Linked DNA regions of Homo sapiens: all the other regions are linked to region 2. The links come from fine-mapping of genetic effects on gene expression. A gene starts in region 2. Each other region holds a variant in brackets. All regions are shown on one strand. Distances are from middle to middle.

Region 1 (5,189 bases), 36 kb after region 2:
ATGCACAGTAAAATAGCATTTACTATTTCTGTAGGACGAATAGCTCAGTAGCCGAAAATGATTATAGAGTTGAGTAGATCTTTTTCAGAGATAACAGCAGGGGGCTGGGCTCCACATGGGGACAGTCTGTGCTGATGGAGGTTTGTGAAGCAGAAATGAGACCCCAGAGCTGAGGCCTCGTCTTCCAGCTACAAGACCATGCCAGGCAGGGAAGGGGGAGGGATAAGGATGGAGAGAAAGGAGGAAGCTTGGGAGCAGGACCTTATTATAGAAATGGGCCTCTGTGGGGTAGTGGTTTAGAGCCTCATGACTGGGGAACAGTGTTGGAGCCTGTGGCTCAGCCACCAGGAGAATCACCATATACTAATGCTCACCCTGGGTTTGAGGCAAGGCTAGAAGAACTTCCTTACCTCCTAAGGATAGATAGGCTTGACCAAGAGGGCCATAACCTTCCCCTGTGCTGGACTACACTTTAGATGGGCTTCTTTCAGACTCTAGAGCCCTGATATGGTTTGGCTTTGTGTCTCCACCCAAATCTCATCTCCAATTGTAATCCCCACATATTGAGGGAGGGAGATGATTGGATCATGGGGGTGGTTTCCCCCATGCTGTTCTCTTGATAGTGAGTGAGTTCTCATGAGATCGGATGGTTTTATAAGTGTCTGGCATTTAACCTGCTAGCACTTCTCTCTCCTGACACCATGTGAAGAAGGTCCTTGCTTCCCATTTGCCTTCCACCATGATTGTAAGTTTCCTGAGGCCTCCCCAGCCATGTGGAACTATGAGCCAATTAAACCTCTTTCCTTTATAAATTACCCAGTATCGAGTAGTAGCTATACAGTAGTATGAGAATGGACTAATATAGGCCTTGACTTCTCTTTTCTTGAAGCATTTACTTTAGAAACTTGCAATTGTAAATTCTTTCTCTGTCCCTGTGAGATGTAAATCTTCCAACCTGTTGCTAGTTTTGCAACCCAGGACCACTTTTCTCAAGGACCTGACATCTCTTTGAAATGTAATCATGGAAAGGAATAGTGTCTCTGTCTCTCAGTCTCTGTGGAAGGGTTGGAGCCTAACTCCAGTAAACACCCATTAGCAAACACAGATGCCTAATCACATGGACCAACCTCCCCACAAACATCTTCCAGTACTTTTCCATTAGCTCATCCCAGCTCTTAAAAATCGTCCCATTGTTTGTTTCAGCAGAGTTAGTTCAATCTCTCTCCCTTATTGTAGCCTTGAATAAAGGCTTTGCCTTTCAAACTCTGTCCTGCCCATTTTTCTTTGACATGTTCAGATGTTGGCAAGGCTGAAAACTGCAGGGGATCTGGTTGTGATAATCCAGGTAAGCCACAGGGAAAGCACAGGTAAGGCAGAAGCAGGGAAGTGAGGTGAGGGGTGGTGTATCCATGAAAGGAGGGTTCCAAAAATGAATGATAAGAATGGTCATGTCACACCAGGAGTGTGGTACTGTGTGCACCCGTTGGCAAGCGACTTAATGAGATTGCTTTAAACATGGCTTGATTTTAATTTGTAGAACAAAATTGAATCCATGATTGATCCACAAGGCCCTGTGAAGTGTTTTGTAAAAATATACACTAAGTCTTTATGGTCAGAGTTTCTTTGATGCCGGGAGTTTCTGCTGACCTATATTCAGTGTTATAAGTAATTGGATTTTTCTTTTTAACCAGCAGTTGCAGACTGGCATTTGGTCTGCTAATTTATCGTGTTTCTGGGATGTCCAGTGTTCTAAGAATTCTTATTTTTTATCCAAATGGCTTCAAGTGGAGCACATATTTCCAAGATGACCACTGGTCCTTTCCAGCCTACTGCCTCTGCCCTGGCTTCTAGCAGCATAAGACTTGGGCCTTCCTCATATGTTCCCTCCTAGCTAACCTGACTTTAGCCAGTATAGATTTTTCTTCATTTCTCCATTCCTGAAGTATGGCTCCCTCCTTTCTCTTAAGCATGTCTTTCAGTCTTATACTACTTCTTTTCTTAATATTGAGTCTATTTGTATACATGGATAGTTTAATAGGCATCTCATTTAAGGTTCTCAAATAAGTATACAAGCTAAAAAGTCACCCCCCATCCTTCTCCACCCACAGAGTGTACATTGTGTTGGGTGATATCATGGGGAAAATACCAGGAGCAAACCTTAGCTGCAGGAATCTCTTTTCTCTTGTGTCATTGACTTCTTATTAGAAAGACATGTGTTTTGGTTACAAGGTTGGCAATTCCATCATGCAGCAGTGTGAATGGGATGTAAGGAGATATTTTTAATTTTACCTCCTAATACAACCATATCAAATCCCATTTCCAAATGAGGAAATGAGGACTTGTAGGCACAGATATCTGGAAACAAAGCCTATTTAAAATTGCTTAGTAGGAATGACAGTTTTCCTTCCGACCCATTTTCAGTGACAGCCTGTCACTCTTGACTGAGAGATCTCCAACCTACAAATGTTGGTGGGTTATTTATTTTGCAAGCAGCCCTCCTGCTGCCATACAATGGCAAGTCTTGAGGGGGAAAGGGTTATCATTTTCTTTCCTTTGGATCTGAGTTACTGGCTCTGTTGCTCTAGAGGACTATGCCTTTTAGACCATGGCGGTGCTTTTGCTTCATGGACTTGGCACCCTGCCACGGTCTTCCTGGCATTCAACCTCTGCTTGCCCTTGTTTCTGGCTTTGTC[G/A]TTCCCACTCAGCACTGACAACTTGTAAGAGCCTCAGCACATTATATGACCACGATAGGACCACATGGATTCCACTGCTGGATTTCAAACTCCAATAATTAACCTTGTATTTCTTCAAGTTGAGCAGTGATAACTGCCTATGAGATGGCCAAGTTGGCCACCTGGCCTGCCTGGGTTACTCTTGGTCTGGTTGGCTCATGACTTACACTTAGCCTTTTGTGATCTTGGTGTAGGGAGGGCAGAACTGTGCGTTTTCTAAGAGAAGCAGGGTAATATGATTAATAAAAGGTGAAGATTTACGTAGAGGAATCGAGCACCTGTTATCATACAGTCTAGGAAAAGTCCAAGCAAACCAGGCAGGCTGTTGCTTTGAGCACATGGGGGTCTACATTCTAGTTTTTTCTCATTTTCTAGAAAAGAAAACTAGACACTCAGATTAAGGAAAATGTCCAAGGTGCTCTAACATTAGTGTGTCAGAGGCATTGAAATCAGAGCAACTCCATCTTGAATAGGTGCTGGGTAAAATGAGGCAGAGATCTACTGGGCTGCCTTCCCAGGTGGTTAAGGCATTCTAAGTCACAGGATGAGATAGGAGGTCAGCATAAGATACAGGACATAAAGACCTTTCTGATAAAACAGGTTGCAGTACAGAAGCTGGCCAAAACCCACCAAAATCAACATGGTGACAAGGGTGACCTCTCGTGGTCCTCACTACTGCACTCCCACCAGCACCATGACAGTTTACAAATGCCATGGCAACATCAGGAGGTTACTCTCTATGATCTAAAAAGGGGAGGCATGAATAATCCACCCCTTGTTTAGCATATCATCAATAAATAACCTCAAAAATGGGCAACCAGCAGCCTTTGGGGCTGCTCTGTCTACGGGGAGTAGCCATTCTTTTATTCCTTTACATTCCTAATATACTTGCTTTCACTTAATGGACTCGCACTGAATTCTTTCTTGCGTGAGATCTAAGAACTCTCTCTTGGAGTCTGGATCGGGACCTCTTTCCAGTCACAAGCATGTCACCTGTTTAAGAGCTGTGGCCCCCTGGCAGGGCATCCCCATCCCTGGAGCTTTCTGGCTATTCTATAAAGTGAATGGAATGCCTGGCAATTGTAAAGCACTTCCCCGTCCATAAGAGCCAGAGCCACAGAGCTCGAAGTTTGAGTATTTTGGTGCTTGTGGTTGGTACTAAACACTGGTAGAAAGGGTAAAAAACAGTTTCCTGTGCTTTTCTTACCTACATGGCCAACAGTATATTGCTTTGTGTGGGAAGCCTGTAGAACTGAACCAGGACTCCTCCAAGAAACATGAGCCACGCGTGGTTCTCCTGGCATTGCTTTGACGCTGTGGGTGTGGATGCAATGAGAAACAGGGTCAGGTTTTGAAACCATCCCCACAGGGTTGACGGGAATTGCATGCCAGGTTCTGGGTACAAATACAGTTATAATTCAGCGTTAATCAGGCTGCACCCTGGCCCAGTTCCTTGTTGCAGTAGGTCATGTACCGTAACCAAGTACCCTGATTTTTCTGAGGTGGTTTAATTACTTTTTTCTCTTCTCTTCTCCTTTCCCCTTTCAGCCTGCTTCCTACCTAGCCCTTTTTGAAATGCAAAATAACCTCTCACCTCCCCCTCACCACACATTCCCTACAAGGCAAGGTCATCTACGTGCCCCAGTGATCTCTTCTCCAGAATTGACAGTCAATTTGCAGATCAAAGCACATCTCCACGGAACTCCCACTTCTGGGGTGGCCTCAGGAGGACATGGTGAAAACACGCCCACTTGGCCACTTTTACAACTTATTTCTGCCCAGGAAGGCACCAACTCAACTGTATGCCAACTCAGCTGTTTGGTAGATAAGACACCAGGCTAGCAGGGGGACTTCCTGCCCTTGCTCACTTCCCCTTTAACCTTATAAACATGTCTGCTTTTTGCTCCAAAGATGAAGCAGCACACTTAAAGCAGGACACTTTGTGTCTTTCCAAGCTAGCTTCAAAAATAAATTCACTTTTCTTGTACCAGGCCTGGATCTTGTTAATTGGACTCTGCTGCAGTGAGTGGCTAACCAGTTCCTCAGTTACAGTAGCACTAGATCCTGACATTTGCTTCCCCACCGTTCCCCTAGATAGGATCTCTGACATTAAGGCCAGAAGACTGTTTAAGAATTGATTTGCATCCCCATTGTTCCTATAGACACTTAAGATGTTTTTCAGACACACCTCCCCAGAATTCCAGCCACCAGTTGGAAGTCTCCCACAGGGGAACAGGATCAGCATGAGAACACAGCTGCTTCCTCTCCCCTTCCTATGACTTCACCCTGTACTCTTGATCTCCACACTTCTGCCCACTCCAAAGCCCTCAAAAACCCAAGCCTCAACTTCCTTGGGGAAATGGCTTTGAGGTTCCCTCCCATCTTCTCGTTCTGTGACCCTGTGGTCAAGGTGTTTGAACCAGAGCAACTCCATCTTGAATAGGAGCTGGGTAAAAT
Region 2 (5,204 bases):
ACAGTGATGCTTGCTGGGATCATGGCTGGGAACTGATCTACAGAATGTCTGACTACATACAAATTATACTTACAGGTTCTCTCTATTCTTTTAAGACAAAATAAAAAAAAAGACCGGGCACGGCGGCTCACACCTGTAATCCCAGCACTTTGAGAGGCTGAGGCGGGCAAATCACTCAAGGTCAGAATTCGAGACCAGCATGACCAACATGGAGAAACCCCGTCTCTACTAAAAATACAAAATTGGCTGGGTGTGGTGGCACAAGCCTGTAATCCCAGCTACTCGGGAGGCTGAGGCAGGACAATCGTTTGAACCCAGGAGGGCAAAGGTTGCAGGGAGCCGAGATCGTGCCATTGCACTCCAGCCTGGGCAACAAGAGCAAAACTCCGTGTCAAAAAAAAAAAAAAAAAAAAAAAGAAAAGAAAAGAAAAAAAAAATTGCCCCCTTCCTCACCTTCAACTCTTTTGCGTGGCAGGTATCTTGTTTTCACTTTCCAGTTCTTCCACCCCAGCCTGTGTCATGAGGTCCGCGATATTCTTTTCCAGATCATCAATGCGACTACTCATATCATCAAGTGCTGAAGTTAAAGACAACGCGTGCCAACATCTCATTGAGCCTTTTTCCTCCCGTCCCTGCAGACTACAGCCTTAAACACAACGACTTTAGGGAAACTGGTCTTCCAATTTTCTTTCGACACTGTTACACGCTGGTGGGTAAGAGTACAGGACTGTGGGGCATGGCTACCCCGCATCGGATTCCAGCCCTGACCCTTACTAGTGATGGAACCCCTAAACCTCAATTTATTCATTTGCTAAAGATGATAACACTACAACCCACTCATAAGGTCATGCTGAGCATCAAAAGACACACACAAAAGCGCTTAGTTCACAGTGCATGGTCCACCACACCAGCTATTAGGATTGGTAGACGTATGCTCCTTGAGCCAGGAGTCTAACTCAGCTTTGCCCCTAGCTCTCGGCGCAGTCCTTCTCAGAAACACAGTACAATCCAAGCTCAAATTCTACAAGTGAATGGCTGAAGCTAGCCTGAAAACTACTCATTTATCCCCACCACTGCCCGGCAAATAGGCTCCAAAGGCCCACAGGAGGCCGACTGCAGATAAAAAGGATATTTCTCCCAATGATCTGGTCAGACATGGTCTGAAATTTATCTTGCATCTGCTGCAGGAGTGTCTGCACCTAAGAAAAACCGAAACAAACAAACACGGTCCACATCGATCCTGAGACAACTTCCTGGGATCAGGACGCAAGCCCTGGTCCCGGGGTTCCAGCCCCATTTCTGCCTCTGGACAGCTGTGCGGCCTTCAGCAAGATCTTCCTTCTCTGGGCTTCCGTTTTCCAACCTGTCCAATTAGACTGCTGGGCTGGGGAGGCCGCTGCGACTCAAAGCTCAGGGTCTTTAGGTTGTTTCTGCCGGGCTGGGGCACCCGGGGGTGTGTGAGGAGTTGAAGGGCGGGGAGGGTGTCAGAGGTAGGCGGGAGGGACCCGGAGGGCGTTCGCGACAGATGAATGGGGCTACTGGAAGGGGTCGGGCTTGGGGGCGCCCGCGGGGAGACTGGCCCGCACCGAGCGCCCCGGGGGTCAAGGTGGCCGGGAGCCTCGGCCAGAGACGCTTCCAGAAACGGGGCCTCGGCAGACGCCACGCGCGGCCGCGGTGGGCGCGCCTCTGTCCAGCAGGGCTTGGCCCGGCGCCGCCCGGGAAGGCCGCGGCCTCCGGCCCTCACAGCCGTCCCTTACCACCGAGGTGAGGTCCTGCACGGTCTTGGGGTCAGTCTCGGCCATCTCCCCGATGCCCAGCTTGGCGGTGATGTCTCAGACCGTAACCTACACTTCCGTTTGTCCGCTCAGTCGCCCCGGGCCGCTGCTTCTCGCGACGAGACTGGCAGCTCGCGGGACCGCGGGGCATTATGGGAGTAGTAGTTTCTCCCGCACCGGAAGGGCCTCGAGGCCGCGCGCTTCCGTTCCAAGGAGCGGCCCCACCCCACTCTCCCCGCCTTCTTTCGCATAGCCCCTCCCCTCCCTCTATGCCCCGCCCCTCACGCAGCGCGCCGTCAGTGGGGTGGAAAGTGAGACCAACTCAGAAATGGAGCAATAGAGGCAGGGAGTGGTCTTGGCCTCTCTTCCAGGCTGTAGTCAGTCGAAAGACGGCTCTGGGGTTTCTTTGGCCTGTCGGGACGAACTTACAGAACTTTTGCCCTTCAACAAGCCCCACTGTACCCTTGTAACTGCCCCCAAGCCAAGGAACATGACCCACCCCTACCCGCCCCGGGAGCCCCATGGCTCCTGTCCTGTTCTGTCATCTCCACCCTATGAAGGTGGCCAGCGTCTGGAGTTTAGCCCAGTAGGTTCATTGTGCCCGTCAGGTTCATATGAGGGGATTCAGACAGGAAGCTGTCCATCATGCCTGGCTTCTTTCACTCCACGCAATGCCTGCTGTTGAGTGGGGAAGGCTTCCGGCATCAGGGTTAGACTGTGGGTTTGGGTGTTGAAGGAGGTGGGCACTGCTGATTTGGAACCTCAAGTTCCAACCCCACAGGTGGTCTTTAGGATTGGGTCTCATGGCAAGGGGATAGGAGAGTCCTTGACTGCGGGCCTGGCATGTTCTGGAAACTTTCACACATCTCATTTAAGGACTGTGCTATGTGAGGGGTCAGCTCCAGTTTGACTTTAGCTAGGGAGAGGCTGTAAGGTGTTAGAGCTGTTACGGGAAAGGGTCCTGATCCAGACCCCAAGAGAGGGGGTTCTTGGATCTCATGCAAGAAAGAATTCAGGGCGAGTCTGTAAAGTGAAAGCAAGTTTAAGAAAATGAAGGAATAAAAGAATGGTTACTCCATAGACAGAGCCCTGAGGGCTGCTGGTTGCTCATTTTTATAGTTATTTCTTGATTATATGCTAAACCAGGGGTGGGTGATTCATGCCTCCCCTTTTTAGACTATATAGCGTAACTTCTTGACGTTGCCATGGCATTTGTAAACTGTCATAGCGGTAATGGGAGTGTAGCAATGAAGACAAGCAGGGTTCACTCTTATTGCCATCTTGGTTTTGGTGGGTTTTGGCCGGCTTCTTTACCGCAAGCTGTTTTATCAGCAAGGTCTTTATGACCTGTACCTTGTGCTGACCTCCTATCCCATCCTGTGACTTAGAATCCTTTAACTGTCTGGGAATGCAGCCCAGTAGTTCTCAGCCTCAGTTTACCCAGCTCCTATTCGAGATGGAGTTGCTCTTGTTCAAACGCCTCTGCCAGACCCACCAGTGTCTCTAACAAACCCGGAATCCAGTTGGCCTTGAGGCATGAGACTTCAACTCCCTTTACCACCCCTTCCCCCTCACTCACACCTTTGCCCCTCACCCTTCACACCTCATCCTTTCCTATAGAGAGATCTTCCTTTCTGTGTAAGTATACACAACTTTTTTGTAATTGGCTGTTGTCAACTGGTATTTGGCTAGTGCTTTACCCGACTACTTGAAATAAAAATATCTCAGTGTTTTAAGTTAATCCTCAGAAGACCCTGTGATATAATTATCATAATTTTACATTTTTGAGAAAACAGATGCAGAGGCGTTAAGAAACTGGAACAAGGTCATCAAATTAAGGAAGTAAGAGACGCAGGACTTCCTGACTCTGCATCTTCTCCTTTTTTCTCACCATTCTAGAATTCTCTGAGTTTTTTGAGCTTAGAGCAGAGTTTCTCAAGAGCTGCAATACTGGCATTTGAGTCAAGTCGTTCTTTATTGTTGGTGGTGGAGGGGGCACCCTGTATATTGTAGGACGTTGGGCAGCATCTCTGACTTCTACCTACTAGATGCCAGTATCTCAGTTTTCTTAAAAGACTTTTTTTTTTTTTTTTTTTTTTTTGAGATGGAGTCTTGCTGTGTTGCCTAGGCTGGAGTGCAGTGGCACCATGTCGACTCACTGCAACCTCCGCCTCCCCGGTTCAAGCGATTCTCCTGCCTCAGCCTCCTGAGTAGCTGGGATTACAGGTGAGCACCACCATGCCCAGCTAATCGTAAAAGACTTTTCATAAAACTTCAGAACTCCTTAAAAACTAGTGAATAGCCAAGGTGAAGAAAGCCCTCAGGCTTCTGACTTTAGACCCCAATCCCTGGGACTCCCACACTCAGCAAAGAAAGCTGGGTGCCTGCACCCTGGATCTCTGAGCAAACCTGTCTTATGGCTGTGGGCAACTCAGGAACATGAATTAGCACGAGAATCTGGAGTTTTTCTTTCCTTTTCTGGTAAGACACTTGTGGTTTTTTTTTTTCAAATTCCAATTGGAAATTTGCTTTACATGAACAACAAACAAACTTGATACTCTTTTAGTGGAGGCATTATTTGTTCCTTTATTTTTTGCACTTAAACAGACAGGCAGTATGCTTTCTCTGTGTGGAGACCAAGGTCTGTTAAAGGGCTGCTTTTCACGGAAGCTTCACTAATTTATACTCATGGCTGACATACTCACCTTGTGGGGCTGACACACCGAACCTAACTGAATATTGTCCCATTAACAAAACTAATGTATTACGTGTAAGGCACCAGTAATTAACCTTTAAACTTCGGTTTTGAACAACTCTCATTTTTAACCTTTATTTAAGTGTCATAGTTGTCTTACCTCCTCTTGGCATTTTTTTTTTAAAGCTCTTCCTAGATTAATTGCATGTTGTAACTCCCTTTTTCCATTCAAGACAGTTTTGTTTTACGTGCGCTTATTATGGTACTTTTATAATTGCTTTTTGGTTCTCTGGGCCATTCTTTTGACATGCCTCCTTTCTTGGATCTGTACTATGATAGGTGGCTGGGCATGGTGGCTCATGCCTGTAATCCCAGCACTTTGGGAGGCTGAGGCAGGCAGATCACTTGAGACCAGGAGTTCAAGACCAGCCTCGCCAGTGTGGCGAAACCCCATCTCTACTAAAAATACAAAAATTAGCTGGGCTAGGTGGCGTGCACCTGTAATCCCAACTATTCAGGAGGCTGAGCCAGGAGAATCGCTTGACCTGGGGAGGCAGAGGTTGCAGTGAGCCGAGATCTATCCCCTGCACTCCATCCTGGGCAACAGATTGTGACTCTGTCTCAAAAAACAGTAATAATAAAATACACTATGGAAGGTGTTGGTCTGTCCATGTGACCACATGCAATGAGGTGCTTTGTGCGTTTGCCTTGTGTGAGCAGCGATGGAATGATCC
Region 3 (5,218 bases), 40 kb before region 2:
TCACCAGGGAGTTGCAGCTAAGCTGGCTGTTGCACAAATACAAAAATATTACAATTAATGGAAAAATATTTGTACCATATATAGCAGTTTAATGGCCATATTCTTAAGACCCCCCAAAAAATTACAAAGCAGCAAAAACAAAATTAACCCCACTTTTAAAAAATGGGCAAAACACTTGAGCTAGCAGTTTACAAAGAACCATAAATGGCCCATAAATAGTCACTCGTTCCAGTAGGAACTAAAGAAATGCAAACGAAGTCAACAAAGAGATCAGTTTTTAGGTCTCATTTGAAAGGATGGCGTTGGTCCCCAATGTTGGTGAGACTGCAGGGAAACAAGCCTTATCCCAACCTGCTGGTGGGATTTCAAATGTGTATCTTCCTAGGGGGTCAGATTTGGCAGTCTCTATCAGGGCTTTCCAATCATTTAGTCTCTACAAATGTACCTTTAGGAAATAATTCTAGATGTGTTCAAAGAGCTTCACGAATGTTCACTGTCTGCTACTTATAATAGTGAACAATTGAGTTCAACCTAAAGGTCCAATAAAAGGGGATCACTTAAATAAATGGTGACCCTTCCACACAATGAAACACTTTGTACATTTACACAATGATAGAAAAATGTTTACTAATTAAGAGAGTGTTCACAATTTATATTGTTCAGTAAAAAGGGAGATTAAATACAAAACCGTATGTATAGTATAATTCATTTTGGTAAGAAACAAGAAATTTCTTACCAAAGAAGAAATACTTAAATAGAATGTCCATAAACCTTAACAGTGGTTATCTTTTCTTTGAAATAGGGTCTACATTACCCATTTTTGGCTGGTTTTGAACTCCTGGGCTCAAGTTAGCCTTCTGCCTCAGCCTCCCAAAATGCTGGGATTACTGGCGTGAGCCACTGGGCCTGGCCTTTAACAAACTTTTTTTTTTTTTTAAAGGGGTAATAAAGGTTGTTTTTCCACTTTCTTTGGAAACTTCCAGTCTTTTTCAAAATTAGGAAAGGATCTGGTTGTACAGTGGATAGTGTAAATTCTACCAGGGAGGTACACCAGATTACTAAGTGAGAGGCTGACACATAAGCCTAGAACGGTCTCCTTGCACATCTCACTGAGGGTTGTGGCCTATGTTCTAAGTCCAACAAAAAGGAAACTCATCTGCTCAGCAGAGTATTCATTGCATGATAAATTGAATGTAGCCACTGAAAATATTCATGCAAATATCTTCATTAGTAAAATCATGCAATTAACCTGAAATATGTGCTAAATGAAGCAGCCAAATTGTTGCATATTTTCCCAGCTCTTAATTATAATTTTGGTAATCAATTTTTCTCCTGATTACCAAAAAGAAAAAAAAAAAAGACCCTTCAACGTATGCATGATCCGAGGATGAGCTGGAACGTGAGATAAAACCCTGAATCGTTATAGCAAAGGAGGCCATTAACCTTTCCTGTGTTTTTGTTCATTGCAAGCATTTCCTGCTAATGCTCATTGCGGAAGAAGATTGGATTTTAACAAGAGCTTTTTGGATCAAGCATCAGCCCTTCCTGAACTCTACGTTTTGCAAGCGCCACCGTCATTAAAGGTTACCAGCACTTCCATTATCATCTTCCCAGCGTTTATTTCTTAAATGGCTTTTGACTACAGTGTAAAAATTTTCCTTAAGTGAAAACTGGCATCCAATCTCTCGCAAGCCCAGACATGCAGATGGCCAAAAATGCCACAGGGCCACATTAAAAAAAAAAAAAAAAAGCAGGGTGGAGGACAATGAGTCCTAATAGACAGATCCCCTGTGCTCTCTGAATTCTTGTTTTCCCATTTACTGAGCAGTTAGTGGATTTGGAGGTGGGAAGAGCCTCACCCTATAGCATTTCACAAGGTACATTAGGAGGAGCTGCTGAGCCATGGGGTAGCTCAATTTCTACATCTGTAAAACGAAATGAAGCACGTGAGGATTGAGATGAGTAAAGTCTCTAGCATATGTAAAAGACAAAATATATTTGCCAATATTTAAGTTGCGACATTTTAACTTCCCCTTTTTAACAGGTCCTCCATGAAGCAGTCTACCTCCTCAGGCTAAACCGGGAAGGTGTCACC[C/T]TTGGGACAGAGTGGGTACTTGATCTCTCTAGTAAGATGTTGTTTTTCACCACTTGACCTTAGAGATCCTCCCAAGATGCAGAAATGCTTAGTTCTCAGTCATGAGAGTAGAGCTGGGAGGAACACAAACATATTAGACAAAGAAAAGCCAGGAAGGCAGGGCCCGGGCATACAGGTTGCACACTGTGCAAGGATCTCATGTAAGGGGCACCTTTCATTCATGGCAGAGACACTGTAGATTTATAGATTTGTCCTGACAGTTTTCTAGATACAAAATAAATAGAGCAATTTTTCTTCCAGATAGAAGTAAAGTGTCCTGAGGAAGGAGGTGCCTGTTTCTAAATTGCACCAAGATGCTCATAGATTAACTGCAGCCTGGGGAAGCCCTCTGCTCATGGCTCCCAAAGTTTGTGGGGTGAACAGACCTGGAGGGAGCAGAGGGGAAGAGTGGATGTGTGGGTCTTGCTAGGTCTCTTGGAGAAGACCCCTGGTAGGGAGTTGGGAGGGAGCCTGAGGGGGAGGGCTTCTTTTCTGGTTCCTGTTTAGTTCTCTGCTATCCTGACTGCACTGATACGGAATTTAAGAAGAAATTATTGGCTGGGCACGGTGGCTCACACCCATAATCCCAGAATTTTGGGAGGCGGAGGTGGGCGGATCACTTGAGGTCAGGAGTTCGAGACCAGCCCGGTCAACGTAGTGAAACCCTGTCTCTACTAAAAATACAAAAATTAGCCGGGTGTGGTGGCGGGCACATGTAATCCCAGCTATTCGGGAGGCAGAGGCAGGAGAATTGCTTGAACTGGGGAGGTGGAAGTTGCAGTGAGTTGAGATCATGCCACTGCATTCCAGCCTGGGTGACAGAGTGAGATTCCACCAAAAAAAAAAAAAAAAAAAAAAATTATTTAGGCAGATACTAAGGAAGGGTAAGGATGTCCTTAGTAAGGTTTTTCTTTTAATTAAAAGCAGCAGCCCCCAAATCATTTCTTTTCTAACAAACAGCAGCTTATAAAATCGAGCTGCACACATAGAAAGGCAGGCTAGAACCTGGCATGGTGCATGCCGGTAGCTGTGCCAGTAGGAAAGGGGTTACCTGGGTCTACGCATGTCCAACATGGCGGCTCCGTCTTCCCTTCCCTTTGCCAGCCAAGTGTACAGTAAGGAGCAGACAATATGGCACCCACCAAGTGGAAAGCCAATTTGCTTAATAAGATTAGAGTGGGATGGGCAGCTTCCCCAAATGCTGTGTAAACATCACACCTGGTCCAACCAATCTGTGGGCCCTCTGTAAATCAGACACCCCCTCCTCAAGCCTGTCTATAAAATCTGCTGCATTCTGCTGCAGGCCAGAAGTCCCATTCTGGTGCCCTTCTCTTTTGCAAGGGAGAGAGCTGTTCTCCTTTCTCTTTCTTTTGCCTATTAAACCTCCACTCTTTGTTGTTGTTGTTGTTGTTGAGACAGAGTCTCGCTCTGTCGCCCAGGGTGGAGTGCAGCGGTGCCATCTCGGCTCACTGCAACCTCCGCCTCCTGGGTTCAAGTGATTCTTGTGCCTCAGCCTCCCGAGTAGCTGGGATTACAGGTGTGCACCACCACACCTGGCAAATTTTTGTATTTTTAGTAGAGTTGGGGTTTCACCATGTTGGCCAGGCTGGTCTCAAACTCCTGACCTCAAGTGATCCGCCTGCCTCGGCCTCCCAAAGTGCTGGGATTACAGCTGTGAGCTACCATGCCCGGCCTGAACCTCCTTGTGTGTGTCCATGTCCTTAATTTTCTTGGCATGAGGCAAGGATACTCAGGGATTACCCCAGACAAGGACACCGCTTCAGCATCAGGGAGAAGTCAGTAATGGAGTGAGACTAGGAGGGGAGGCCTCGCATATCCAGCAGGCCCCTGGCAGGAAACCGATGGCTCATACCAACTGGGAACTTGACCGTGCGTGGGCAGAGCAAGAGAAGGCTGCAGGGGGCCACAGGGCCTAGGGCCAGCAAAGGCAGGAGCCACTGCTGCTCCCAGGCCTGAGAGTGGCGGGTGGTGCTGGGCAGACAGGCTCCCGATAGGTGCTGGGCCCTGGGGAGAGGACCCAACAGTGGGGGAATCAGAAAATGAGGACAGAACCGAAGGCCCTGTTCTCCCTCCTTTTTGCCTTCAGCTGGTGCTGACCATTGGCCAAACTCAACTGGAAGCCACAGGCAGAAGTGTCTGGGCACCGGGCTCGGGGACAGGGGAGGACACTTCTCTGAAGGAGGCAGGGATTACTCGGCGTACCTGATCCTGGCTTCACTGGTCTCCTCTTGGTTCCCAGGTAGAAAGGGTCAAGGTGACCCTTAGGCAGAGGCTGGGTATAGGCTGGTCTGGGACAGGGAAGCAAATGGAGGACGTGGTGGAGACTCACAAGAGACTTCAGTTTGGAGAGGGCTGAGGTGAGACTGAGGCAGCCATGGGGTCTCTTGGGTCCCAAACAAACCCATCTCGGGAGCTTACCCCAGCCCCCAGTTCACACGATGGAGGCCCACGGGGCTCTCGGCACCGCATCATGGTCACCGCCTGGACCTGAGAAGTGCTTCCCTCTGCTGTCAGGGGTACCATGGGGGCCCCTGGTCTCCCAAACACCCAGACCGCATCTCAGGGAGGGGTGGGCAAGCAGAGACGGAACTGAGAGAGGCTGAGCACGGCCAGCGGCCAGCTGTGTGTGACCTGATTCAGCAGCTGGGACAAAAGGCAGTTTGTTCCATGATCCCTGAGACGGGGCCTTGGGAGAGACCAGATGAATTCTACAGAATATGAGGAAGTGGGTGGTCAGGTACAGAAATCTGAATCCCACTATATATCTATGTCTTAAATATATGTATTTTTTGATCCCATTTGTGTGTGTATGCGCGTGCACTCACACACGAGAGTGAAAGGGAGAGAGAGAGAGACAGACAATTAAGGCAATCCCTTCTCTAGTATTCAATCCCAGAAACTTAGATGATTATGGTACCCTATTAAAATGGAGTATCCTAGAACCATGAAAAATCCCATTTCTCAAAAATATTACAGACCAATAGCACTTGTAATGATAGATGCAGAAGTCCTTCATAAAATTTTACCAACCAGCATAAAACAACTCATTAAAGAAAAGTCACC

Evidence for each region. PIP is the estimated chance that this variant, and not a neighbour inherited with it, causes the effect. A credible set is the group of variants that fine-mapping cannot tell apart.
Region 1: its variant is the best candidate, but not a certain one, in a credible set for the expression of HSBP1 in whole blood (TOPMed, PIP 0.83).
Region 3: its variant is the best candidate, but not a certain one, in a credible set for the expression of HSBP1 in whole blood (TOPMed, PIP 0.51).

Annotation. Positions count from the first base shown.
Region 1 is chr16:83,768,965-83,774,153 of GRCh38, reverse strand. All of the region lies in intron 11 of CDH13 (cadherin 13), which reads right to left. It overlaps CEDORA (CDH13 antisense oligodendrocyte and neuron associated lncRNA), which reads left to right and starts at 1,205. Exons shown (of 4, transcript NR_188499.1): 1 at 1,205-1,345. RefSeq lists an enhancer at 4,542-4,681. The variant G/A (reference allele first, on the strand shown) is at 2,694.
Region 2 is chr16:83,804,675-83,809,878 of GRCh38, reverse strand. It overlaps HSBP1 (heat shock factor binding protein 1), which reads right to left and starts at 1,901. Exons shown (of 4, transcript NM_001537.4): 1 at 1,758-1,901; 2 at 1,133-1,199; 3 at 454-574. The coding sequence starts at 1,802. The coding sequence ends at 456. RefSeq lists silencers at 1,465-1,754, 1,772-1,948 and an enhancer at 1,606-2,107.
Region 3 is chr16:83,844,304-83,849,521 of GRCh38, reverse strand. No RefSeq gene overlaps it. Among named protein-coding and RNA genes, the nearest start is that of HSBP1, 39 kb to the right of the region's middle. RefSeq lists enhancers at 2,229-2,728, 2,729-3,230. The variant C/T (reference allele first, on the strand shown) is at 2,096.